Regions from separate parts of the Homo sapiens genome. Here regions 2 and 3 are each linked to region 1. The links come from fine-mapping of genetic effects on gene expression. A gene starts in region 1. Each other region holds a variant in brackets. All regions are shown on one strand. Distances are between the middles of the regions.

Region 1 (8,205 bases):
AGCCCAAGGCCGGTGAATCACTTGAGATCAGGAGTTCGAGACCAGCCTGGCCAACATGGTAAAACCCCGTCTCTACTAAAAATACAAAAATTAGCTGGGCGTGGTAGTTTGTGCCTGTAATCCCAGCTACTCGGGAGGCTGAGGCAGGAGAATCGCTTGAACCCGGGAGACGAAGGTTGCAGTGAGCTGAGATTTCTCCACTGCACTCCAGCCTGGGTAAAGAGTGAGACTCGGCCGGGTGCGGTGGCTCATGTCTTTAATCCCAGCACTTTGGGAGGCCGAGGCGGGTGGATCACCTGAGGTCAGGAGTTCAAGACCAGCCTGGCCAACCTGGTGAAAGCCTGTCTCTACTAAAAATAGAAAAATTAGCTGGGCGTGGTGGTGGGTGCCTGTAATCCCAGCTACTCAGGAGGCTGAAGCAGGAGAATCACTTGAACCTGGGAGGCAGAGGTTGCAGTGAGCCGAGATCATGCCGTTGCACTCCAACCTGGGTGACAGTGAGACTCTGTCTTAAAACAAAACAAAAGAAGCAAAGTTTATTTTGCTCAGAGCTTCACAGTTTTAGGGGCTGGAAAGTGCAAGAACTTCATGCAGTATCTGGCAAAGGGCTGTCCCAGGATGGAAGGGCAGAAGGTGGAAGCAAATGAGAGACACGAAATTGGGCCAAATGTCGTCCATCCATCAGGAGCCACTCCCATGATAACAGTATTTATCTATTCAAGAGGGCAGAGCCCTCATGATCTAATTATCTTTTTTTTTTTTCTCCTGCCTCGGCCTCTTGAGAAGCTGGGATTTTAGGCGCATGCCACCACACCCCGCTAATTTTTGTACTTTTAGTAGAGACGGGGTTTCACCACGTTGGTTGGGCTGGTCGCAAACTCCTGATCTCAGGTGATCCACCTGAGATCCACCACTTTGGCTTCCCAAAGTGCTGAGATTACAGGAGTGAGCCACCTCGCCCAGCTGACCTAATTACCTCTTAAAGGCCCCACCCTGCCCAGTGCAGTGGCTCAGGCCTGTAATCCCAACACTTTGGGAGGCTGAAGTGGGAGGACTGCTTGAGTTCAGGAGTTGGAAACCAGCCCAGGCAACACAGCAAGATCCTGTCTGTATGAAAAAAAAAATTTTTTTTTTAATTAGCCAGGTGTGGTGGCACACATCTGTAGTTCCAGCTGCTCAGGAGGCCAAGGCAGAGGACTGCTTGAGCCCAGGCAGTTGAGGCTGCTGTGAGCCATGATCAACCCACTGCACTCCAGCCTGGGGGACAAGAGTGAGACCCTGTCTCAAAGAGAAAAAAAGTCCCATCTCTTAAGACAGTAGCAATTGAATTTTTTATTTCAACATGAGTTGTGGCAGGGACATTCGAACCATAGCACCAAGGTTCTCCCCAAAGCTCTCCAAGACCTTCTTTGATCTGGTTCCTGCCCCCTTTCTGATCTCATCTCCCACCAATCTCCATCTACATCACCCAGTTCAGCCCTCCTGCCTCAGGGCCTTTGTACTTGGCCCCCTCTGGGTCACATTCCCTGATCTCTGATTCTATGTCTTCCTTCAGATTTTTGCTGTTTTCCTGAACCACCTTATCTAAAATAGCCTCTCAGCTTCTCCACTATAGCTCCCTTACTCTGCTTTACTTTTGTTCTTATCCTTTATCACCAGTAGATATATTATGGATTTGGGTTTTTTAATTTAATTTTTATTTTTTTTGGAGACGGAGTCTCTCTGTCACCCAGGCTGGAGTGCAGTGGCGTGATCTCGGCTCATTGCAATCTCTGCCTCCCAGGTTCAAGCGATTCTCCTGCCTCAGCCTCCTGAGTAGCTGGAATCACAAGTACCGCCACCACACCCAGCTAATTTTTTGTATTTTTAGTAGAGACGGGGTTTCACTATGTTGGCCAGGCTAGTCTTGAACTCCTGACCTCAGGTGATCTGCCTGCCTCAGCTTCCCAAAGTGCTGGGATTACAGGCGTGAGCCACCGCGCCTGGCCATGTATTATAGATTTATTTATGGTGGCATGATTCCTGTCTGCAACCCCAAGACACACAGTACTCTATACCCCAGGATGGCAGGGACATTGTTTTGTTCACTGGTCCATCCCTGTGGGAGGCAGTAAAATACACATTTACTCAATAAAAATGACTCTGTATGTGGTGTGTCAGACTGTGTGTCCAGATGTCTTGGGACATTCTCTGGCAGCCTTTGCTGTTTGTGTCTTCAAATCAGACCCTATCTTTAAATCTAACATGTCTCCTGTGAGAAGCCTGGTCCCTTAATACCTTTGTGGCTCTACAACTCTTCCCTCCTTGACTGTATCTCTTCCTCCAGGTCTTTGCTGTTTTCCTGAATCACCTTATCTAAAATAGCATCTCCTTTTCTCCATCATAAGCCCAGGTTTTGTGGGGCTGGGGGCTTATTTGCTTTTGGAGACCGTCTTCAAGAATACAAAAGATAAACACAAAATTACATATAAAAGTGAGTTTTGTTTTTTTTTTTAAGTTTCGGATACCACGGCACATTACTGGAATCTTGGAGACTGGCTTCTCTCCCTTTTGATCTCCATGCACAACTTACCTGAGATGTATTCTAATAGCAACCTGGCTTCCCCTCCACACTCAGCCTTTCAAGCGCCCATTAGCTTCGCAGTAAATCTCCCACACTAGGTATCCAGCCTTTGCCTTTTTCTTTTTTCTTTTTTTTTTTCCAGAGGGAGTTTCGCTTTTTTTTTTTTTTTTTTTTTTTTGAGACGGAGTCTCACTCTGTCACCCAGGCTGGAGTGTAGTGGTGCGATCTCGGCTCACTGCAAGCTCTTCCTCCCGGGTTCACGCCATTCTCCTGCCTCAGCCTCCCGAGTAGCTGGGACTACAGGCGTCTGCCACCATGCCCGGCTAATTTTTTTTTGTATTTTTAGTAGAGACGGGGTTTCACCGTGTTAGCCAGGATGGTCTCGATCTCCTGACCTCGTGATCCGCCCGCCTCGGCCTCCCAAAGTGCTGGGATTACAGGCGTCAGCCACCGCGCCCGGCCGGGAGTTTCGCTCTTGTTGCCCAGGTTGGAGTGCAATGGCACAATCTTGGCTCACCGCGACCTCCGCCCACGGGTTCAGGCGATTCTCCTGCCTCAGCCTCCTGAGTAGCTGGGATTACAGCCATGCGCCACCACGCTCGTCTAATTTTGTATTTTTAGTAGAGACAAGGTTTCTCCATATTGGTCAGGTTGGTCTCGAACTCCCGACCTCAGATGCTCTGCCCACCTCGGCATCCCAAAGTGCTGGGATTACAGGCGTGAGCCACCGCGCCCAATCAGCCTTTGCCTTTTTCTCCTGTCCACAGAGACCCCGCAAACAAGCGCATCAGAGGATCTGGGTGGTGCGAGAGCCTCCTACAGCAGCCAGGTACACACAAGGCCTCAGTTTTTCCATCTGTGAAATGGGTACGTGGACAGACCTGTCCAGTAGCCTCCCATGTGAGAATCCTCGGACTGAGAGGGTACTAGGAGGGCTAATACAGCGCAGCCCTGTGATTCCCCACCTCTGTCCCTGGAATGAAGGAAATCTGGGTGTTAGTTCTGGCTTTGCCGATGCCTCTTGGGTGGCCTGGCTGAAACTAATCTCTCCTCATCAGGCCAGAAGGGAATCTGTGAAATGGGCTTTGAAACCTGCCTTGCCTTTCTCCGCCCGGTCCCAGCGGGGGTCCGATCGGCATCAAGGCTTCACCCACTCCCAGAGCCTTCGGGATCAGCCCCACCCCATCAGCAGGACACAGCCCATGCCACTGGAAATCTCGCGAGAATCCCGCGCTGAAGCGAAGTCGAGACGTTTGACCTTCCTCCGTTTCCGTAGTTCCGAGTTGCGGTTTCTCCGTTAGTGCTTCCGGGTTGCAGCCAGGGAAGCCTCCGCGGTGGTGCAAGTGGAACCCAAGCCTTGAGGTTTCAGTGAGTAGGGGGCCGACGTGAGCTTTAGCGTCCCCCTTTAGCCTCCCTCTTCGATTCCTTGAAGACCCTGGTGCAGCTTAGCAAGAGGGCCCAGGATTTTTGGATCCCCAGCCCTGTGACAAGGGTTCCTGTCCAGTTTCCCCCTCCCAGGATTTCGACTCAGTTCAGCGAAGTCACCGCCCCGTCTGAGAAATGAGGACACCAAGGCTTAGAGCACAGCCCCGAGGCGCCGTCTACCAGGCCCCGTCCCCTCCCCCGGCTCCTGTCGGTCAGCACTGAAACCCCGTCCCTGCTCCAGGCCTCCTTCTCTGGGGTCCAAGGTCCCATACAGGCCTCTGCCTCGGCCGCAGGCCCTTCAGTCACCGTCGCCTCGTCTCCCTGACTGTCCGCAGGCCTGGGCAGCATGGCCGTATTCCGGTCGGGTCTCCTGGTGCTGACGACGCCGCTGGCCTCCCTAGCCCCTCGCCTGGCCTCCATCCTGACCTCGGCGGCCCGGCTGGTGAATCACACACTCTATGTTCACCTGCAGCCGGGCATGAGCCTGGAGGGCCCGGCTCAGCCCCAGTCCAGCCCCGTGCAGGCCACGTTTGAGGTTCTTGATTTCATCACGCACCTCTATGCTGGCGCCGACGTCCACAGGCACTTGGACGTCAGAATCCTACTGACCAATATCCGAACCAAGAGCACCTTTCTCCCTCCCCTGCCCACCTCAGTCCAGAATCTCGCCCACCCGCCAGAAGTCGTGTTGACAGATTTCCAGACCCTGGATGGAAGCCAGTACAACCCGGTCAAACAGCAGCTAGTGCGTTACGCCACCAGCTGTTACAGCTGTTGTCCGCGACTGGCCTCGGTGCTGCTATACTCCGATTATGGGATAGGAGAAGTGCCCGTGGAGCCCCTGGATGTCCCCTTACCCTCCACGATCAGGCCAGCTTCCCCCGTGGCCGGGTCTCCAAAGCAGCCGGTGCGTGGCTACTACCGTGGCGCTGTCGGTGGCACGTTTGACCGCCTGCACAACGCCCACAAGGTGTTGCTCAGTGTCGCGTGCATCCTGGCCCAGGAGCAGCTTGTGGTGGGAGTAGCAGACAAAGATCTGTTGAAGAGTGAGTAAGAGGGACCCTGGACTAGGGTGGAGGATCCCCAAATCTCCCCACCCCCGACCCTTATGCCGAGATCAAGGAAGGGTAGGGCCATTCATTACTTCCCACCCTTCCCAAATGTCACAGTGGTTGACACTCAATTGGTGCTAAGGCCATTTTGTCAAATGAACAGCTTTCTCAGCATGTGGTCCAGTCACCACTCAATCAGAATACCCCAAATGTGAAGCAAAGGGATCTGCATTTTAGCAAGTTTTCCAGGTGATACACCCTAATGAGACACTGGGAATGAATGGGTGAGTGAGCTGCAGGTAGCAGTGCCACAGACAGGAGGAGGAAACTCAAGCATGGCATGGGTCTTGGAATTTTCCATCTGCCTCTGATGCCCTCTGGCACTGCTCGTTCTCTGGAGTGGTTTCCTGGTGGCTTATTCTCTGGACACATGCCAGCCCTTGGAGTGACTATTGTGCTTGCCTGTTTCTTCACCTTCATGCTCCCCTCACCATCACCATAGGCCTTACCAGTTGAACCCTTTCTGCCACCCCCTCTGGGGATACTGTACTTAGGGACACTTTTTCCCAAACTGGCCCATACTCTCCTCCCCAATAAAAAGATCTCACTGTTCTTCTGGGCTCCTTCCCCAGGCAAGTTGCTCCCTGAGCTGCTCCAACCTTATACAGAACGTGTGGAACATCTGAGTGAATTCCTGGTGGACATCAAGCCCTCCTTGACTTTTGATGTCATCCCCCTGCTGGACCCCTATGGGCCCGCTGGCTCTGACCCCTCCCTGGAGTTCCTGGTGGTCAGCGAGGAGACCTATCGTGGGGGGATGGCCATCAACCGCTTCCGCCTTGAGAATGTAACCCCTGAGGGAGACTGGCAGAGGGAGTGGATGGGGGACGGGGAAGGCCATTTTGAGGGGGCTGTTGGAAGTACCATGGCCCCAGAGGAGAGAAGTGGGGGCTCAGGGTGGTGGGAAGAAGCAAGGAGGAACTGGTTCTCAGTTTGCCCGCTGAGTCGGAGGAGGAGGAGCCTGGGTAGGAAGGGGAGGATGGGGGGGCAGGTTGGATGTCAGGGTCTTCCTCTCACTCCCTCCTTCCCTCTTTTTACCCTTTCCTCTTTACCCCAGGACCTGGAGGAACTTGCTTTGTACCAGATCCAGCTGCTGAAGGACCTCAGACATACAGAGAATGAAGAGGACAAAGTCAGCTCCTCCAGCTTCCGCCAGCGAATGTTGGGGAACCTGCTTCGGCCTCCATATGTAAGCTCCTCTCCCTCCTTCCCTCCTGCTTGGTGTCCTGGCAATGCTGGAGAGTAGAAGCTGAGGGGCTCAGCCCCAGGCATGAGGCTGAGGGCCCCAGTAACTGTGGGTTCCCTTTCACCTATCCCCAGGAAAGGCCAGAGCTCCCCACATGTCTCTATGTAATTGGGCTGACTGGCATCAGTGGCTCTGGGAAGAGCTCAATAGCTCAGCGACTGAAGGGCCTGGGGGCGTTTGTCATTGACAGTGACCACCTGGGTCATCGGGCCTATGCCCCAGGTGGCCCTGCCTACCAGCCTGTGGTGGAGGCCTTTGGAACAGGTAATAACTGGGGAAGGCTGAAAGTGGCCTGGAGTGAGGAGCTAGCCAGGCCTCTGTGCTCAGTTGTCTGTCTGTGTTGTCCAGATATTCTCCATAAAGATGGCATCATCAACAGGAAGGTCCTAGGCAGCCGGGTGTTTGGGAATAAGGTAAACAATAACTTCCTAAGGGCTCCTAAGCCGCTACTAGACCCAGGGGTCAGGGTCCAGTGGACCTCTCTGGTCTGGCCCAGAATGCCATTTCCATTGATCTGTTCCCAACACCACCTTGCTCGGGCTGGCTGCCTCTTCTAGAGAAGGTAACCTCTGCCCTCTGTTCCCCTCCCCAGAAGCAGCTGAAGATACTCACGGACATTATGTGGCCAATTATCGCAAAGCTGGCCCGAGAGGAGATGGATCGGGCTGTGGCTGAGGGTGAGTGGGAGGGAGGATGGCAACAGCTAAGGGGACAGTTAAGCTGTTTCTTCCCCTGGGAGCTTCCCTGCCCAACGTGGGACTGTCTGTTCACCCTGGGACTGTGTTCTGCCTGGGAGAACGTCGGCACTGCTGGCGGTGACTGGGGTCTCCCCACAGGAAAGCGTGTGTGTGTGATTGATGCCGCTGTGTTGCTTGAAGCCGGCTGGCAGAACCTGGTCCATGAGGTGTGGACTGCTGTCATCCCAGAGACTGAGGTATCTCGCCCCACCCCCCACACCATCCCTACTGCAGATCCTATCCTGTGAGCTGGAATTCTTCCTGACAAATGTCTCGTCTGTGCTCAGGCTGTAAGACGCATTGTGGAGAGGGATGGCCTCAGTGAAGCCGCGGCTCAAAGCCGGCTGCAGAGCCAGATGAGCGGGCAGCAGCTTGTGGAACAGAGCCACGTGGTGCTCAGCACCTTGTGGGAGCCGCATATCACCCAACGCCAGGTTGGTGCCCAGGGCAAGGCCGGGTTGTGGGGAAGGAGTCTCCAGTGGGTACTGCCTGACCCTGCCCTCTCTTCCTCCCAACATCCTGGCCTGTCTGAAGGTGGAGAAAGCCTGGGCCCTCTTGCAGAAGCGCATTCCCAAGACTCATCAGGCCCTCGACTGAAAAGTTCTCAGTGGGGCCAGACTGGCTCCTGGAGCTGACAAGCGACCCCGTGGTGAGGAGAAATGGGGGCCTTGATGCTCACCCTGGTTCAGGCCCAGAGGTCCAAGCTATACTGTGCAGGACATGGCCAGGCCTGGTGGACACAGGAAGCCTACCCAACACGCTGGTATTTGGCCAACACTGAGGATGTGGTTCATGGGGGAGCAGTCCCCTCCCCACTCTTGCCCATGGGTGACTCTTACCCACAGCTGACTAGGGCCAGCGCAAATACTGGAACCTGTAACAGAATTAAAGGTGAATGTTCTGAGATGTTGCTTGTATGGTGTCTGCTTCCTGTTCCAATGCCCCTAAGTATCTTTGGGATCCTTAAGCCACAAGTGCAGGGCCCAGGCCTGAGCTGGAAGCCTGGGCAATGCAGTGGTTAAGAGAATGGCCTTTGAGGCTAGCCAGAGGCGAGCTTTGGCCCTCCCACTGACCAGCTGTGTTCTTCTGAGTAAGGTGTAGACTTTCTAGGTACTGCCGTGT
Region 2 (8,205 bases), 1.0 Mb after region 1:
ATTTGAGTATGGCAAAACCCTGCCTCTACTAAAAATACAAAATTAGCCAGGCGTAGTGGTGCATACCTATAATCCCAGCTACTTGGGAGGCTGAGGCAAGAGAATTGCTTGAACCCAGGAGGCAGAGGTTGCAGTGAGCCGAGATCACATCATTGCACTCCAGCCTGGGCAACAAGAGCAAAACTCCGTCTCAAAAAAAAAAAAAAAAAGTACAGTGTTTGTATATGCGCTTTACACTTTATTGTTTTACTAAGCCTTTTAAGATATCTTATTACATTTTCCCAGCATTCCTCAAAGTAGGTATATTTAGTTCCATTTTATAGTTGAGCACTCTAAAGTCCAGAGAGTAATTTGCTTTATGTCACCCAGGGAGAGGGAACCAACCAAACCACCCGCTTCAGACTCCCCAGCTCCACGGAGTTCCAGAGATAGTGACTTCTGAGGGCTGAGTAAAGACAATAGCACGTTGTTCTTTCTAGCCTGATCCCCAGTTCTCTGGGATCCTGATCCCACCTGACCCTCCCCTTCTTGACATTTCCTTTTTATGTTCTTCCCCCACCCCACCAAACCCCACTTTCCTGTTAAGAAATGCCTGTTAGGATCTTGTTAATTGTGTATCTTACAATGTGGTTTGGCATTTTCTTAAATTGCATGTCACACATGAATGTCTTCCACAAAGGGAAAACTGATGGAGGGGGGAGCATTTTGCTCCCTAGAAATTGAGAATGTAAAGTATATTTAATTAAAATGATAAATCTGATATTCAGTTTTGTTTTTACTACTACTAAAACTAATCTATTTTATGCACATTTGCAGAAGGCTGCAGCCATCAAATCAGAGAATATTAGAGCTGTGAGGCACCTTGGAGATCTGTCTGGGCCAAATCCTTCATTGTAGAGACAAAGAAACTGAGTCTCAGATTGGGGAAGTGCCGGGGATGCGTGAGTGGCTGAGGTGGAGCCAGGCACTGCGGCTTGTTTTCCTGCGCACCACCTTCTCTCTCTGGCTTCAACTTCTGTGCATCACAGGGTGGGAGTCACCAGGCTCCGACTCCTCTCTCTTTTAATGTCTTCCCCCTCCCCATGCAAACTCATGCTGGGAGGGGGGATGGGCCTCTGGAGCTCCCCTTCCTCACCTCCCCAGGGGGTACTGTTTATTTTCTGTCAATTCTCTCCCTCTGGCTTCTCTGACTCCCGTCTTTTCCCAGGCAGGATCCTTGTTTGGCATGATCATTTGGTGAGATTTTATTATATTTTATGTATTTATTTTTGAGATGGAGTTTCACTCTTGTGGCCCAGGCTGGAGTGCAGTGGTGCAATCTCGGCTCACTGCAACCTCCACCTCCCAGGTTCAAGTGATTCTCCTTCCTCAGCCTCCCGAGTAGCTGGGATTACAGGCATGAGCCACTACACTGGGCTAATTTTTGTATTTTTAGTAGAGTCAGGGTTTCACCATGTTGGTCAGACTGGTCTTGAACTCCTGACCTCAGGTGATCCACCCGCCTCAGCTTCCCAAAGTGCTGGAATTACAGGTGTGAGCCACCACGCCCGGCCTGGTGAGATTTTAAATGGCATTTGGTTCTCTGTTTTCCCCTCTGTCCTTCTACAAGGTAGTAACCAGATCTCTGCTTTTATTGTCCCAGCTGTGCCTGCAGAGTTGAAAACAAGCTATTGAATCCACATTTTAGGTTGCATTTGCTTAAAACAACATTGTGCATTTGCTTAAGACAACATTGTGCATGTTGTAAAACATTTATTTATTTGAATAGATAAGATATCCACATAGCGGCCAGGCGCGGTGGCTCACGCCTGTAATCCCAGCACTTTGGGAGGTCGAGGCGGGCGGATCACGAGGTCAGGAGATTGAGACCATCCTGGCTAACACGGTGAAACCCCGTCTCTACCAAAAATACAAAAAAATTAGCTGGGCATGGTGGCGCGCGCCTGTAGTCCCAGCTACTCGGGAGGCTGAGGTAAGAGAATGGCACGAACCAGGAGGAGGAGCTTGCAGTGAGCTGAGATCACACCACTGCACTCCAGCCTGGGCAACAGAGTGACTCCGTCTCAAAAAAAAAAAAAAAAAAAAAAAAAAAAACCCACATGGCACAAAATTCAAAACTAATGTAGTACTCGCCAGTGAAATTTTTAAATCTCTCCTCTCTCTGTCCTCTAGCAGCTCAGTTTGCCTTCCTGGAGGCAGCCATTATGTTCAGTTTCTGGTGTATCCTTGGTGAGACGATCCATACATGTATATCCAAACCAATTCATACCTCACATACATACATTAATTAATTCCTTCCCCTTTGGTTACAAAACTTCTCCTGCATGATGTTGTCTTGGGGAAGTATCAACAACTGCTTAGTCATGGTTTGGGGCGTGCCAGGTTAGAGGCAATGACCTTTCTGATTTACGAGGTGGTGCTGGCTGCACTCATTTGGGTTCTGTGGGGAGGTGGCTTTGAGTTCCTCGGGGCCCAGTCTGCAGTGGCTATTGGGAGAAAAGGCCCCACCTTCCTGGGCAGAGAAGTGGAGCTTCCACTTAAAGAGGCAGAAGGAGGCTGTCAGAAGAGGGAAGGGTGAGTGTGTGTCTGTGTGCATGCACACACACACGCGTGCAGGTTATAGTAATCACTGTTTCACATCTTATTTTTAAGAAGTCAGAAGGTTGTGGTAAGAAGTGAGAATGAGGAGTCCCCTTTAAGGTGGTCTAAGGTTGTGCCCAAGACAGTTGGCTTGTTCCTTGGGAAATGTCTTTCAGGGCCTGAGGAGCTGGATAAAATGGAGGGAATGACCTAATCCATTTGGTCCAATTGATTTTTTTTTTTTTTTTTGAGACAGAAACTCACTCTGTTGCCCAGGCTGGAGTTCAGTGGCGGGATCTCAGCTCATTACAACCTCTGCCTCCTGGGTTCAAGTGATTCTCCTGCCTCAACCTCCCAAGTAGCTGGGATTACAGGCACACACCACCAGGCCTAGTTAATTTTGGTATTTTTAGTAGAGAAGGGATTTCACCATGTTGGCCAGGCTGGTCTCGAACTTCTGACCTCAAGTGATCCGCCTGCCTCGGCCTTCCAAAGTGCTGGGATTACAGGCGTGAGCCACCACGCCCGACCTCATTTGGTCCAATTTCTATCAGGAATCTTCTTTGTCATCATCTCCCCTAACTCCAACTTCAATACAGTCTCAACAAGCATTTACAGAAATACACTCTGCAAAAAAACATGTGCTAGGCTCAGAAAAATGTCCAGAGGCTCAGAAATGAGGAAGGCCCTTGCCCCTGCCCAAGGAGCCCGCCATCTCGTGATGGCATTATAGGTGTGTGGGGCTATAAGTCTTCAATGTTTTTGTGCAAAAGTCAGGGGCTGCCTTTCAGGAGGAAACAGTGAAGGGTGAC[G/A]GCTTCGGTCCTGGAATTCCTATTCTTTTTTTCTTTTTTTTTTTTTTGAGGTGAAGTCTCACTCTATTGCCGGGCAGGAGTGCAGTGGCGCAATCTCGGCTCACTGCAACCTCTGCCTCCTGGGTTCAAGTGATTCTCCTGCCTCAGCCTCCCGAGTAGCTGGGACTACAGGCGCCCGCCACCACACCCGGCTAATTTTTGTATTTTTAGTAGAGACGGGGTTTCACCGTGTTGGCCAGGATGGTCTCTAGCTCTTGACCTCATGATATACCCACCTTGGCCTCCCAAAGTGTTGGGATTACAGGCATGAGCCACTGCGCCCGGCCGGAATTCCTGTTCTTTTAAGCCCATGTCTAATGCCATTTCCTCCATGAAGTCTCTCCTGGTGCATTTCTTCTCCCAGGGAACCAGCGCTCTCCTTCAGCTTTGTCAATGTAAGTTGTGAAGAAAGTATTTGTTGGTCGGGCATGGTGGCTCATGCCTGTAATCCCAGCACTTTGGGAGGCCAAGGCAGGAGGATCACTAGGTCAGGAGATAGAGACCATCCTGGCTAACACAGTGAAACCCTGTCTCTACTAAAAAAAAAATACAAAAAATTAGCCAGGCGTGGTGGCAGATGCCTGTAGTCCCAGCTACTTGGGAGGCTGAGGCAGGAGAATGAAGTGAACCCGGGAGGCGGAGCTTGCAGTGAGCCGAGATCGCACCACTGCACTCCAGCCTGGGTGACAGAGCGAGACTCTGTCTCAAAAAAAAAAAAAAAAAAAAAAAAAAAAGAAAGTATTTGTTCATTGGAAAAGATAAGGTCTCTTTCATGATGCTCATCTTCCCCAACCTTGTGTTACTATGAAATCCTCTGTGGATCTGGCTTGAGTCTCCCCACTGTGGATCTGGCTTGAGTCTCCCCACTGGATTAGAAGTTCCTAGAGAGCAGGCTGGGTGCCTCACTTCTGTGCTCCCTGTGGCACCCAAGCCTGCCCCTGGAACAGTCAGGGCTTTGCAAACTCCCTGCTGAAGCTGAATCAGAGGGAGTAGCTTTGTTCAGCCTCTGGAACTGAGTTCACAGCCAAGGAGTGCTCTCAGGAGAGATATGGAAGGACATGTATGGCCTGTAAGCTACAAAGTGCTTTTTTTCAATGACTGAAAAAACATTTTTTAAACACAATATTTTTTGACATGTGAATATATGAGAAATTCATTTTTTTTTCTTTTTGGAGTTTCACTCTGTCACCCAGGCTGGAGTGCATTGGCGTGATCTCAGCTCACTACAACCTCTGCCTCCCGGGTTCAAGCGATTCTTATGCCTCAGTCTCCTGAGAAGCTGGGACTACAGGTGCATGCCACCACGCCTGGCTAATTTTTTGTATTTTTAGTAGAGATGGGGTTTTGCCACATTACCCAGGCTGGTCTCCAACTCGTGTTCAGGCAATCCGCCTGCCTTGGCTTCCCAAAGTGCTAGGATCACAGGAATGAGCCACTGCTCCTGGCCGACAAATTCAAATTTTAGTGTGCAGAGATAGTTTTATTAGGACACAGCCATGCTTACTTACTATTTTAGGTTGCTTTGTGTTACAACAGGACAGTTTAATATTTGCAAGAGCCACAGTATGGCTTGAAAAGCCTAAAATATTTACTCTCTGGCCCTGAACAGAAAAAGTTCGCAGGCAGAGAACCTAATTCACAAATACTAGGAATCCACGTTGAAGGTTGGGCAGCCCAAGGGAGGTGGTCAAGTGTCTCTGGGCAAGGCAGGGGCAAGGGCAGCCCAGCAGGAAGCAGGAAGGGAACTTGCCTAAGGTTGCCCTGCTGGGAAGGGGTAGAGCTAGCCTGTGAACCCAGGCTTGTTTGCTTTCAGAAGCCAAATACCTGTCCACAGCCACAGAAGAGGCCTGGACTTTGGTATTTAAAGGAGAGATAGAGACCCTCCTCACTGAGAGGATCAGAGAAGACTTCTTGGAGGAGGTGGCATTGGAGCTAGCATTGAGGTGGGTAGGATTTGGGTGTGGGGCTAGAGGGAGGATATTCCGGGCTTAGGGAATATCAGGACCAAGGGCAGGAGTCTGGGAAGCACAAGGTTAAATTAGGGGAGGGGGAAGACTCTAGGGTGCGGTGGAAGGGAGTTTTGGGAAGTGGGGAGATAGTCCTTGGAAACCCTTGAGATATTTGCCTTGGAATTTTCTCTTTGGAATCTTGGCTCTGTGGCCCCAGGCCTGATGTCTTTGCCGGCTGGCCACGAAGCTGAGAGTAATTCCAGGCTAGCGTGAGAGGCCCTGGTAGGTCAGAGTGTCTGGTTGCCTAAGCTTTTGTACATCAGTGGCCTTGGACACGTTTTCCTGGATGCAGGCCTGGTCTCGGTGGCAAGGCTTTCCCTGAGTGGAGCCTGGGCTATCTCCCTGGTAGAGATTCCAAGACCTGCCTGTGAATTTTCCATGGGGCCATCACACCCCTGGAACTGAGGAAAGAAAAAGGGGGAAGTGGTTTTCCTTTGCAAGCATGAAGCTGGTGGCTTCTCCTTAGAGGTCCTAGCTGGACCCCATCCTCCCTTCTGGGATGGAGTGGAGGAAATTTTACCTTTGGGAACCTGGGAGGCCAAAGTTCTGGAGATTTAGCAGCTGACATCCCTAAAGGATAAGCCTTAGGCCTCCTGGCAACTACATCAGTGCTTAATAAATGTTTGTGAGTGAAGGAATGAGTGAGTGGGTGCTGGGGGAAGGGGTTTGTCCACAGGGGTGCAAAACAGGCCTCTACCTGCCAGACACTTCCTGTTTAGTCGGGGAGGTGGGTGGGAGGTGGCACTGTGCTGTTATAATAATAACATTTTTCATAACTGAGGTTTAAGCACTAAAGGCAACCCAGGATAGGTACATATCAACAGGAGGGCAGAGGAAGCCACTCCTGGAGGTGTTCCCGTTCTAGCCCACAGAGGCTCTGAGTTCCTGCCCTGCTTAGTGCTGGCTTGTCCTGGAAGTTCCATCATTCTAGGTGCTAGACCCTCACTTGGTCTCTGCTGCTCTCTACTGAGGATGGAGACTTCAGAACCATGACCTCGTGCAGAGGGATCACTGGTATATGTGGGTCTCCTGGGGGTAGAGGAAGGGGGCATTTGTGACCTTGGGTCCTGCTGGCCCCCCTCTGGGAGTTACAAAGCTTACTTTCTCTGCTCAGACAGGGCTGGGGGAGTGAGTTGTTCTTTTTGCCCAACCCAATTTCAGCAACTGCATGTGAGGGAGAACCACGGCAGCTTTGAGTCACACTCCTAGTGCCCTGCTTGTCCCATGGTAGGAGGGTGTCTGCTCATGCCTCCAAGTCACTCACTTCTCCAGGGCTCTGTAGCCCACCCCTCTTCGCTGGTCCCCTCAGGATCTCAAACTCTGGAGACCTCAAGTCATTCAGCTTTGACCCTGCTCTATTCCCTCTCCCAGGGCAGGCCGCTGCTACAGGGAAGGGAGCCCAACAGAATCGTCTCTGTGCAGCTTTGCACCATGGAGTCTCACCCAGCCCTCTATATTATTGTACCAAAACCTGGAGGCTCAGAAAGGTTAAGTGACTTGCCTGACTCACACAGCCAAGAATGGCAGTTGGAGCTTGAATGCCTGTGAACTTCTGTCTAGTGTATCAGTAGATTCAATGGACTGAAAACAGGAGACCTGAGGTCTGACCCAGACACCCATGTCCAGAGGCGCAGGGCAAGGAGGCAGAGGCTCAGTTGAGGAATCCTAGTTCCTGATAACAGAGATGACAGCTAAAGTCAGAGAAAGGAAGTTAAGAAAGAAAGGGATTGCTGGTGGTGAAGCTCTGGCTTCTCTATGCCTAGTGGCTGTTGATTCAAGATGCCCTCTGTGGCCGAACCTTTGGGGTCAGGTGAGGAGGAGGATAGGGCCTTAATTTAGACAGAACCCTTGGGCCCCTGCCTTCCAGTGGAAATACCAGGGTAATGGAAACTGCAAATAGGTGTTATACCTGGGGTTTCAACTAGGGTTCCAAACAGGAATATTCCTGGGGCTGGGGTAGAGGGAGGAGGTAGTTAGTAATTATTTCCATTTTATTCATTTATTGAGCAATTGCTACATGCCAGGCACTGTGTTAGGAGATGAGAATACAGGGTCAACGACAGTCAAGAACAACAGCAAATCTTTCATCGTTCATCATGTGCCAGGCTAAATGTTTTGCATGTGCTACTCATTTATTCCACATCATATATGTGTACAGCGTAGAGAAGTTTCTTTCTAACTTCTCTGTTAGAAAGTTTCTAAGTGTCTGGGCGCAGTGGCTCACGCCTGTAATCCCAGCACTTTGGGAGGCCGAGGTGGGTGAATAAACTGAGGTCAGGAGTTCGAGACCATCCTGGCCAACATGGAGAAACCCTGTCTCTACTAAAAATACAAAATTCGCCAGGCGTGGTGGCGCATGCTTATAGTCCCAGCTACTCGGGAGGCTGAGGCAGAAGAATCGCTTGAACCTGGGAGGCGGAGGTTGTGGTGAGCTGAGATGGCACCATTGCACTTCAGCCTGGGCAACAAGAGCGAAACTCCTTCTCAAAAAAAAAAAAAAAAAAAAGAAAGAAAAGAAAGTTTCCCAAAGTCACAGAGCTAGTGAATAGCAAGGGGAGTCAATGAGTAAGCTCAGGCCAGCAACCCTGCAAATCAGATCTCTCTCCAGCAGAGGTGTGCTCTGAGTGTCCCAGGGATTTGAGAGAGGGGCTCTGCTTGGGGAAGTGGGGAGGCAGCATTTGAGCCAGTCCTCATGGGATGAATGAAATTTCTTCCTAGGAGAGGGGAGAAGGTTCCAGGTTTAAAGAAGCAGCATTTGCCAAGGT
Region 3 (8,205 bases), 190 kb before region 1:
TTTCTTTCAAAACAACGTTTATACACTGACAATTCTCAAATTTATGTCTCTAGCCCCATCCGCTAATATGAACATCAGACACTTATAGCCAACTGCCTCTTCAATATCTCCACCTGGATGTCTAAAATGCATGTCAAACTTAATGTATCCAAAGCCAACCCCTTCATTAAAAACCTCTCCCAGCCGGCTTCTCCTCCAGTCTCCCCCATTCTAGCAAGTGACAACTCCATTCCTGCACATGTTGAGGCTAAAAACCTTGAAATGAGCCTTAACTTCAACTCCAGTCTCTCTCTCTCTTCCTCCCCCTCCTCCTGCCACACCTAATCCATTAACAAATCCTGTTGGCTCTGTCTTCAAAATCTGGAAGTGACCGGGCACAATGGCTCAGGCCTATAATCCCAGCACTTTAGGAGGCTGAGGCGGGTGGATCACTTGAGCTCAGGAGTTTGAGACCAGCCTAGGCAACATGGCAAAACCCTGTCTCTACGAAATATACAAAAATTAGCCGGATATAGTGGCGCAAGCCTGTGATCCCAGCTACTTGGGAGGCTGAGGTGGGGGTATCACTTGAGCCCAGGAGGCGGAGGTTGTAGTAAGCTGAGATTGCACCACTGCACTCCAGCCTGGGAGACAGAGTAAGATCCTGTCTCAAAAAAAAAAAAAAAAAAAAAAAAGGAAGGTGAGCCTTTCTCACAACCTCCCACTGACGCAGCCTTAATCCAGGCCACCAGCATCTCTTACCTAGATAGCTGGACTAGGCTAACTGGCCTGGATGCTTTCATCCTTGTCCCTCTACCTTCTATTCTCCACATTACAGATCCTTTCAAAATAAGAGTCCTGGCTGGCACGGTGGCTCAAACCTGTCATCCCAGCACTTTGGGAGGCCAAGGCGAGCAGATAAATTAAGGTCAGGAGTTCGAGACCAGCCTGGCCAACAAGGTGAAATCCCGTTTCTACTAAAAATACAAAAATTAGCCAGGTGTAGTGGCAGGCGCCTGTAATCTCAGCTACTCGGGAGGCTGAGGCAGGAGAAGTTGCTTGAACCGGGGAGGCAGAGGTTGCAGTGAGCTGAGATCGCGCCACTGCACTCCAGCCTGGGTGACACAGCGAGACTCCGTCTCAAAAAACATAAACATAAAAATAAATAAAAAATAAAAATAAAAACAGAAATTCGCCGGCATGGTGGCCCAAGCCTGTAATCCTAGCTACTCGGGAGGCTGAGGCAGGAGCATAGCTTGAACCCAGGAAGTAGATGTTGCAATGAGCCGAGATTGCGCCACTGCACTTCAGCCTCGGCAACAGAGCAAGATTTTGTCTCCAAAAAAAAAAAAAACCAGAGTCAGATCATTTCATTCCCCTGCTCAAAACCCACTCAGGAAAAAATCCAAAGTCCTACCACGGCCCACCAGTCAATCCATTTTGCCCCAGATGTCTCTCTTTGCCTCCTTCCCTACAACTCTCCCCTTGCTCACAGCTGTCCCCTCTCTGCTCCTGGAACACACCTTGCCCGTTTCTGCCCTAGGACTCTTCTCTCCACCTGATAGGCTCTTTCCCTAGATATCTCCATGGCTTGCTCCCTCACTTCGTTCAGGTCTCTGCACAATGTCTCTTGACACCCCTCTATCTAAAACAGCAACATCTCCCCTGCTGAATTCTCCTTTACAGTACTCATCGCCCTCCATTGTTCATATATTTCTTTTTTCATGTATCTCCTTCCAATATGATCAACTAGGAACTTAAGCCCCATAAGAACAAAGACATTCTTCAGTTCACTGCTATTTCCCCAGCAACTACAGAATGCTCAAATATTTGAATAAATGAATGAAAATTAAGTAAGTTTTTCAAAAATCTAGAACACACTTTTAGCATAGAGAAAACTGAAGTACCATAGGAGGTTAATTCACTTCATATAACAGCATAAACTGCCCTTCCTTAAGTAGGAGACAATAGGTACAATAATGCATGCAAATGTTAAGTGGTAAAGCAAACATACAAAGTTTCCCAATAGAAGAGTTTAAATTAAAATCTAAACTTCCAGCCAGGAGCAGTAGTGGACGTCTAGTCCCAGCTACTCAGGAGGCTGAAGCAGGAAGATCACTTGAGCCCAGGAATTCAAGGCCAGCCTGGGTAACATAGGAAGACCCCATCTCTAAAAACATAAAAATAAAAATCTAAGCCTCAAAAGAAAAAAAATAAATAAACAAAAGGCATTTCCTATAAAGTTAAACTGTTACAGAATTGTTTTTCTTAAACTGCAATAATGAGACTTTAGCACTCTCTTGTCCTCTAAAAGACATTATTTCATGACATGTGCCCATTGGCAGTATTTGAGAATCTAAGAAAGTAGATCACACTAAATATTGATATGCAGACACTAAAATCGTACAACCACTTGGATGACTAGGTTTGAGATATTCCCAAAGTGACAGGTTTTTGTTTTGTTTTGTTTTGTTTTTTGAGACAAGGTCTCGCCCTGTCGCCCAGGCTGGAATGCAGTGGTGCAATCTCAGCTCACTGCAACCTCTGCCTCCTGAGTTCAAGCAATTCTCCTGCCTCAGCCTCCCTGGTAGCTGGGACTGCAGGCATGCACCACCACACCTGGCTAATTTTTGAATTTTTAGTAGAGACAGGGTTTCTCCACGTTAGCCAAGCTGGTCTCGAATTCCTGGCCTCAAGTGCTCTGCCTGCCTCAGCCTCCCAATGCAACCAGCCTTTTTTTTTTTTTTTAACTTTTATTTTAGGTTTGGGGTTACACGTGCAAGTTTGTTATATAGGTAAACTCATGTCAGAGGGGTTTGTTGTACAGCTTATTTTGATAAAATATTAAGTATTAAGCCCAATACCCAATAGTTATCTTTTCTGTTCCTCTCCCTCCTCCCACTCTCCACCCTCAAGTAAACCCCAGTATCTGTGGTTTCCTTCTTTGTGTTCACAAGTCCTTATCATTTAGCTCCCACTTATAAGTGAGAACACGTGGTCTTCGGTTTTCTGTTCCTGCATTACTTTGCTAAGGATAATAGCCTCCAGCTCCATCCATGTTCCTGCAAAAACATGATCTCAGCCGAGCACGGTGGCTCACACGTAATCCCGGCACTTTGGGAGGCCGAGGTGGGAGGATCATGAGGTCAGGAGTTCAAGAACAGCCTGCCCAACACGGTGAAACCCCATCTCTACTAGAAATACAAAAATTAGCCAGGCATGGTGGAGGGCACCTGTAATCCCAGCTACTCGGGAGGCTGAGGCAGAGAATTGCTTGAACCTGGGAGGCGGAGGTTGCAGTGAGCTGAAATCGTGCCACCTGCATTCCAGCCTGGGCAATAGAGCAAGACTCCATCTCAAAAACAAACAAACAAACAAACAAACAAAAACATGATCTCGTTGTTTTTTATGGCTGCATAGTATTCCACAGTGTATGTACCACATTTTCTTTATCCAATTTGTCACTGATGGGCATTTAGGTTGATTCCATGTCTTTGCTATTGTGAATAGTGCTGCAAGTAAATCTCTTTAAACAGCAAATCTATTACTGCCTGCTTTTCAATGCTTTACCCTCAAGAAACTTGGGCTACAACTCAATAACAAAAAGCAGCATTTTTGTTCTTGTTGTTTTTAATTCAGTTTCTTTTTTTTGTTTTGTTTTGTTTCTAAGAGACAGGGTCTCACTCTGTGGCCCAGGCTGGAGTGCAGTGGCAGGATCATAGCTCACTATAACCTCGAACTATCAAACTCCTGGGCCTAAGTGATCCTCCCACCTCAGCCTCCTGAGTAGCTAGGACTACAGGTACATGCTGCCAAACCCAGCTAATTAAAAAATATTTTTTTTTTGGTGATGAGGTCTATGTTGCCCAGGCTGGTCTCAAATTCCTGGACTCAAGCGATCCTCCTGCCTCAGCCTCCCAAAACATTGGGATTATACAGATGTAAGTCACTGCACTTTGGCCATGTGTTGGTTTTTTGTTGTTGTTTTTTGAGACGGAGTCTTGCTCTGTCGCCCAGACTAGAGTGCGGTGGCGAGATCTCGGTTCACTGTAACCTCCACCTCCTGGTTCAAGCGATTCTCCTGCCTCGCCTCCCGAGTAGCTGGGATTACAGGCACCCACCACCATGCCCAGCTAACTT[T/C]AGTATTTTTAGTAGAGATGGGGTTTCGCCATGTTCACCTGGCCTCAAGTGATCCGCCCACCTTGGCCTCCCAAAGTGCTAGGATTATAGGCATGAGCCACCACACCCAGCCTTTTTTTTTTTTGAGACAGAGTCTTGCTCTGTCGTCCAGGCTAGAGTACAGTGGCATGATCTCGGCTCACTGCAACCTCCGCCTCCCAGGTTCAAGCGATTCTCCTGCCTCAGCCTCCTGAGTAGCTGGGATTACAGGCGCCTGCCACCACACCTGGCTAATTTTTGTATTTTTAGCAGAGACGGGGTTTCACCATATTGGCCAGGCTGGTCTCGAATTCCTGACCTCGGGTGATCTGCCCATCTCGGGTGATCTGCCCGCCTCGGCCTCCCAAAGTGCTGGGATTACAGGCGTGAGCCACCGCGCCCAGCCATCTTCTCATTTCTTTGGTGAGATTGTTTGGTTTTTGCTTCTGAAGATTTTCCTGTTTTTCTTTTTTTGTTTTTTTTTTTAAGAGACAGAATCCTGCTCTGTCACCCAGGCTGAAGTGCAGTGGCGCGATCTCAGCTCGCTGCAACCTCCGCCTCCCAAGTTCAAGCATGCACCACCTACAGGTGTGCACCACAACACCCAGCTAATTTTTTTTTTTTTTTTTAGTAGAGGTGGGGTTTCACTACGTATTGGCCAGGCTGGTCTGGAACTCCTGACCTCAGGTGATCCACCCACCTTGGCCTCCCAAAGTTCTGGGATTACAGGCGTGAGCCACCACACCGGGCCTCCCTGTTAAGCCCAGTTTATCCAGTATTTCTAGGTGTTTTGTACAAAAGAGTTTTCAGGGCATTTAGCCTAACATAAAGCAGAAACAAAAGTCAGGATGAGTCAAGTAACAGTATTTGAGAAAACTTCAGAGGTAGAACCAACAGGATTTGCTGATGCTTTGAATGAAAGCAGAGATAAGACAGAACAGGGAATTTAAGGATGATTCCTAGATTTCTGGCTTGCACAAAGGAGTAGATGGTGGTCTACCATTTATTTAGATGGGGAAGTCAGACAGGGAGAGAGGCACAAACTTGCAGAGAGAAAAGTTTAAGAGTTATATTTTGGGCAAGTAGACAGGAGACAACTACAAGTTACTTGAGGGAAGATGTCAAGTTTGCAGCAGGATGCAGGAGCTGGGAGCCCAGAGCGACTGGGTGGAGGGCCACACTTGCTAGTCATCACAGCGGCTAACACGTCTTCACAGTAAAAGCCAAAACAGGCGGGGCACGGTGGCTCACACCTGTAATCTCAGCACTTTGGGAGGCTGAGGCAGGCGGATCACCTGAGAACGGGGAGTTCAAGACCAGCCTGACCAACATGGAGAAACCTCGTCTCTAATTAAAAAAAAAAAAAAAATTAGCCAGGCGTAGTGGCGGGCGCCTATAATCCCAGCTACTCAGGAGGCTGTGGCAGGAGAATCGCTTGAACTCAGGAGGCGGAGGTTGCAGTGAGCCGAGATTGTGCCACTGCACTCCAGCCTGGTCAACAGGAGCAAAACTCTGTCTCAAAAAAAAAAAAAAAAAAATTGAGGCCAGGTGCGGTGGCTCATGCCTGTAATCCTAACACTTTGGGAAGCTGAGGCAGGTGGATTACCTGAGCTCAGGAGTTCAAGACCAGCCTGGGTAACACAGTGAAACCCCATCTCTACTAAAATACAAAAAAATTAGCAGAACATGGTGGCGTGCACCTGTAATCCCAGCTACTTGGGAGGCTGAGGCAGGAGAATCACTTGAAACTGGGAGGCGGAGGCTGCAGTGAGCCGAGATTGCGCCATTGCACTCCAGCCAGGGCAACAAGAGTGAAACTGTGAAACTCTGTCTCCAAAAAAAACCAATTTTAATAGGTATACCATTATACACCCATTAAAATGGCTAAAATCCAAAACACTGACACCACTAAATGCTGGTGAAGATGTGGAGTAACAGGAACTCTCACTCACTGCTGATGGGAATGTATAATGGTACAGTCACTTTGAATATAGTTTGATAGCTTCTTACAAAACTAAACATACTCTTACCATATGATCTAGCAATTGCACTCCTTGATATTTATCCAGAGGAGGTGAAAAGTCCTGCACTGGAATGTTTATAGCAGCTTTATTCATAACTGCTCAAACTTGGAAGCAACCAAGATGTCTATCCTTCAGGTGAATGTTTGATAAACAACATGTGGTATATCCATACAATAGAGTATTACTCACCAATGAAAAGAAACAACCTATCAAGCCACAAAAAAACATGAAGAAACCTGAAATGCATATCATTTACTGAAAGAAGCCAATCTGAAAAGGCTACACACTGTATGTCCAACTATATGACATTCTGGAAAAGACAAAACTATGGAGATATTATAAAAGATCAGTGGTTGCCAGTGGTTCAGCAGAGGAATGAATAGGTGGAGCACAGGGGGTTTCTAGGGCAGTAAAACTATTTTATATAATTGTGTACTGGCAAATATACATCATCACACATTTGTCAAAATCCATAGAATGCTCAACAGAGTGAAATGTAATGTAAACTATGGACTTCAGGCTGGACAGAGTGGCTCACACCTGTAATTCCAACACTTTGGGAGACTGAGGCAGGAGGATTGCTTGAGCCCAGGAGTTTCAGGCTATAGCAAGCTATGATGATGCCACTGCAACCTGGCCTGGACAACACAGTGAGACCCTACCTCTAAAAAATAATAATAATAAAATAAAAATAGAAATAAAATAAACTCAGGAATTTGGTTAATAATAATGTATCGAGTTGGTTCATTAGTTGTAAGGGACGTACTATACTAATGCAAGATGTTAATAATAGAAGTTGTGGGAGAAAGTAAGGGGTATATGGAAACTCTCTGTACTTTCCACATAATTTTTCTGTAAAACTAACACTGCTTTAAAAAATAAAGTCTAGACTGGCCGCAGTGGCTCACGCCTGTAATCCCAGCACTTTGGGAGGCCAAGGCAGGCGGATCACGAGGTCAAGAGATCGAGACATCCTGGCTAACATAGTGAAACCCTGTCTCTATCAAACATACAAAAAATTAGCCAGGCGTGGTGGCAGACAACTATAATCTCAGCTACTTGGGAGGCTGAGGCAGGAGAATCACTTGAACCTGGGAGGCGGAGGTTGCAGTGAGCCGAGATCATGCCATTGCACTCCAGCCTGGGCAAAAAGAGTGAAACTCCATCTCAAAAAAAAGAAAAGAAAAGAAAGAAAACACGTATCTACTAAAATTACAAAAACTAGCCGGGTATGGTGGCAGGCACCTGTAATCCTAGCTACTTAGGAGGCTGAGGCAGGAGAATCACTTGAGCCCGGGAGGTGGAGTTTGCAGTGAGCCAAGATCACACCACTGCACTCAGCCTGGGTGACAGAGCGAGACTCTGCCTCAAAAATAAAATAAAATAAAAATAATAAAGTCTATTAATTTTTAAAATATATTAATTGAGCCGGGCGCGGTGGCTCACGCTTGTAATCCCAGCACTTTGGGAGGCCGAGGCGGGTGGATCACGAGGTCAGGAGATCGAGACCATCCTAACACGGTGAAACCCCGTCTCTACTAAAAATACAAAAAATTAGCCGGGCATCGTGGCGGGCGCCTGTAGTCCCATCTAGTCAGGAGGCTGAGGCAGGAGAATGGCATGAACCTGGGAGGCAGAGCTTGCAGTGAGCCGAGATCGCGCCACTACACTCCAGCCTGGGCAACAGAGCGAGACTCCGTCTCAAAAAAAAAAAAAAAAAATTAATTGAGCTTTATGGTTAAGTTTTTAAAAAGATAAATCTGACCCATAAAGTTTAAATAATAGTCAAGATGGAAGATGAGTGATCTCCCCAAGGAGACAAGCTTTTCTATGAAAATCTTATCAAAATGTATAATGTACTTAGAAAACTAAGTGACCTCATTACACATCATAGTTTTGCATGATGTAACCACTCTTCAGAGAATATCTCATTTTGTCCTTCAGCTCCCACACAAGAGAAGGTTAAGGAAATTCCACTACTCATGAAATTATAATCCCACAATGTAAGTGAAGTGGTGGCTGTGCCTAGGAAAGAAAGAGAATA

Which allele goes with the higher level. Alleles are on the strand shown, and positions count from the first base shown. SD is a standard deviation of normalised expression in the study named. Not every link is listed here.
For the expression in whole blood of the gene that starts at base 3,860 in region 1, T is the high allele of the variant in region 3 and C is the other (moderate effect, 0.53 SD a copy in Lepik 2017).

What was found. PIP is the estimated chance that this variant, and not a neighbour inherited with it, causes the effect. A credible set is the group of variants that fine-mapping cannot tell apart.
Region 2: its variant is the best candidate, but not a certain one, in a credible set for the expression of COASY in whole blood (TOPMed, PIP 0.68).
Region 3: its variant is the best candidate, but not a certain one, in a credible set for the expression of COASY in whole blood (Lepik 2017, PIP 0.61).

The regions. Positions count from the first base shown.
Region 1 is chr17:42,558,289-42,566,493 of GRCh38, forward strand. It overlaps COASY (Coenzyme A synthase), which reads left to right and starts at 3,860. Exons shown (of 9, transcript NM_025233.7): 1 at 3,860-5,034; 2 at 5,673-5,887; 3 at 6,158-6,289; 4 at 6,421-6,610; 5 at 6,695-6,759; 6 at 6,939-7,023; 7 at 7,183-7,280; 8 at 7,371-7,517; 9 at 7,618-7,989. The coding sequence starts at 4,335. The coding sequence ends at 7,680. RefSeq lists enhancers at 3,936-4,185, 4,196-4,385, 7,064-7,570, 7,571-8,077.
Region 2 is chr17:43,554,038-43,562,242 of GRCh38, forward strand. No RefSeq gene overlaps it. Among named protein-coding and RNA genes, the nearest start is that of ETV4, 12 kb to the left of the region's middle. RefSeq lists enhancers at 611-1,111, 2,539-2,608. The variant G/A (reference allele first, on the strand shown) is at 3,393.
Region 3 is chr17:42,366,021-42,374,225 of GRCh38, forward strand. The region is part of intron 1 of STAT3 (signal transducer and activator of transcription 3); the gene reads right to left. Among named protein-coding and RNA genes, the nearest start is that of STAT3, 18 kb to the right of the region's middle. The variant T/C (reference allele first, on the strand shown) is at 4,120.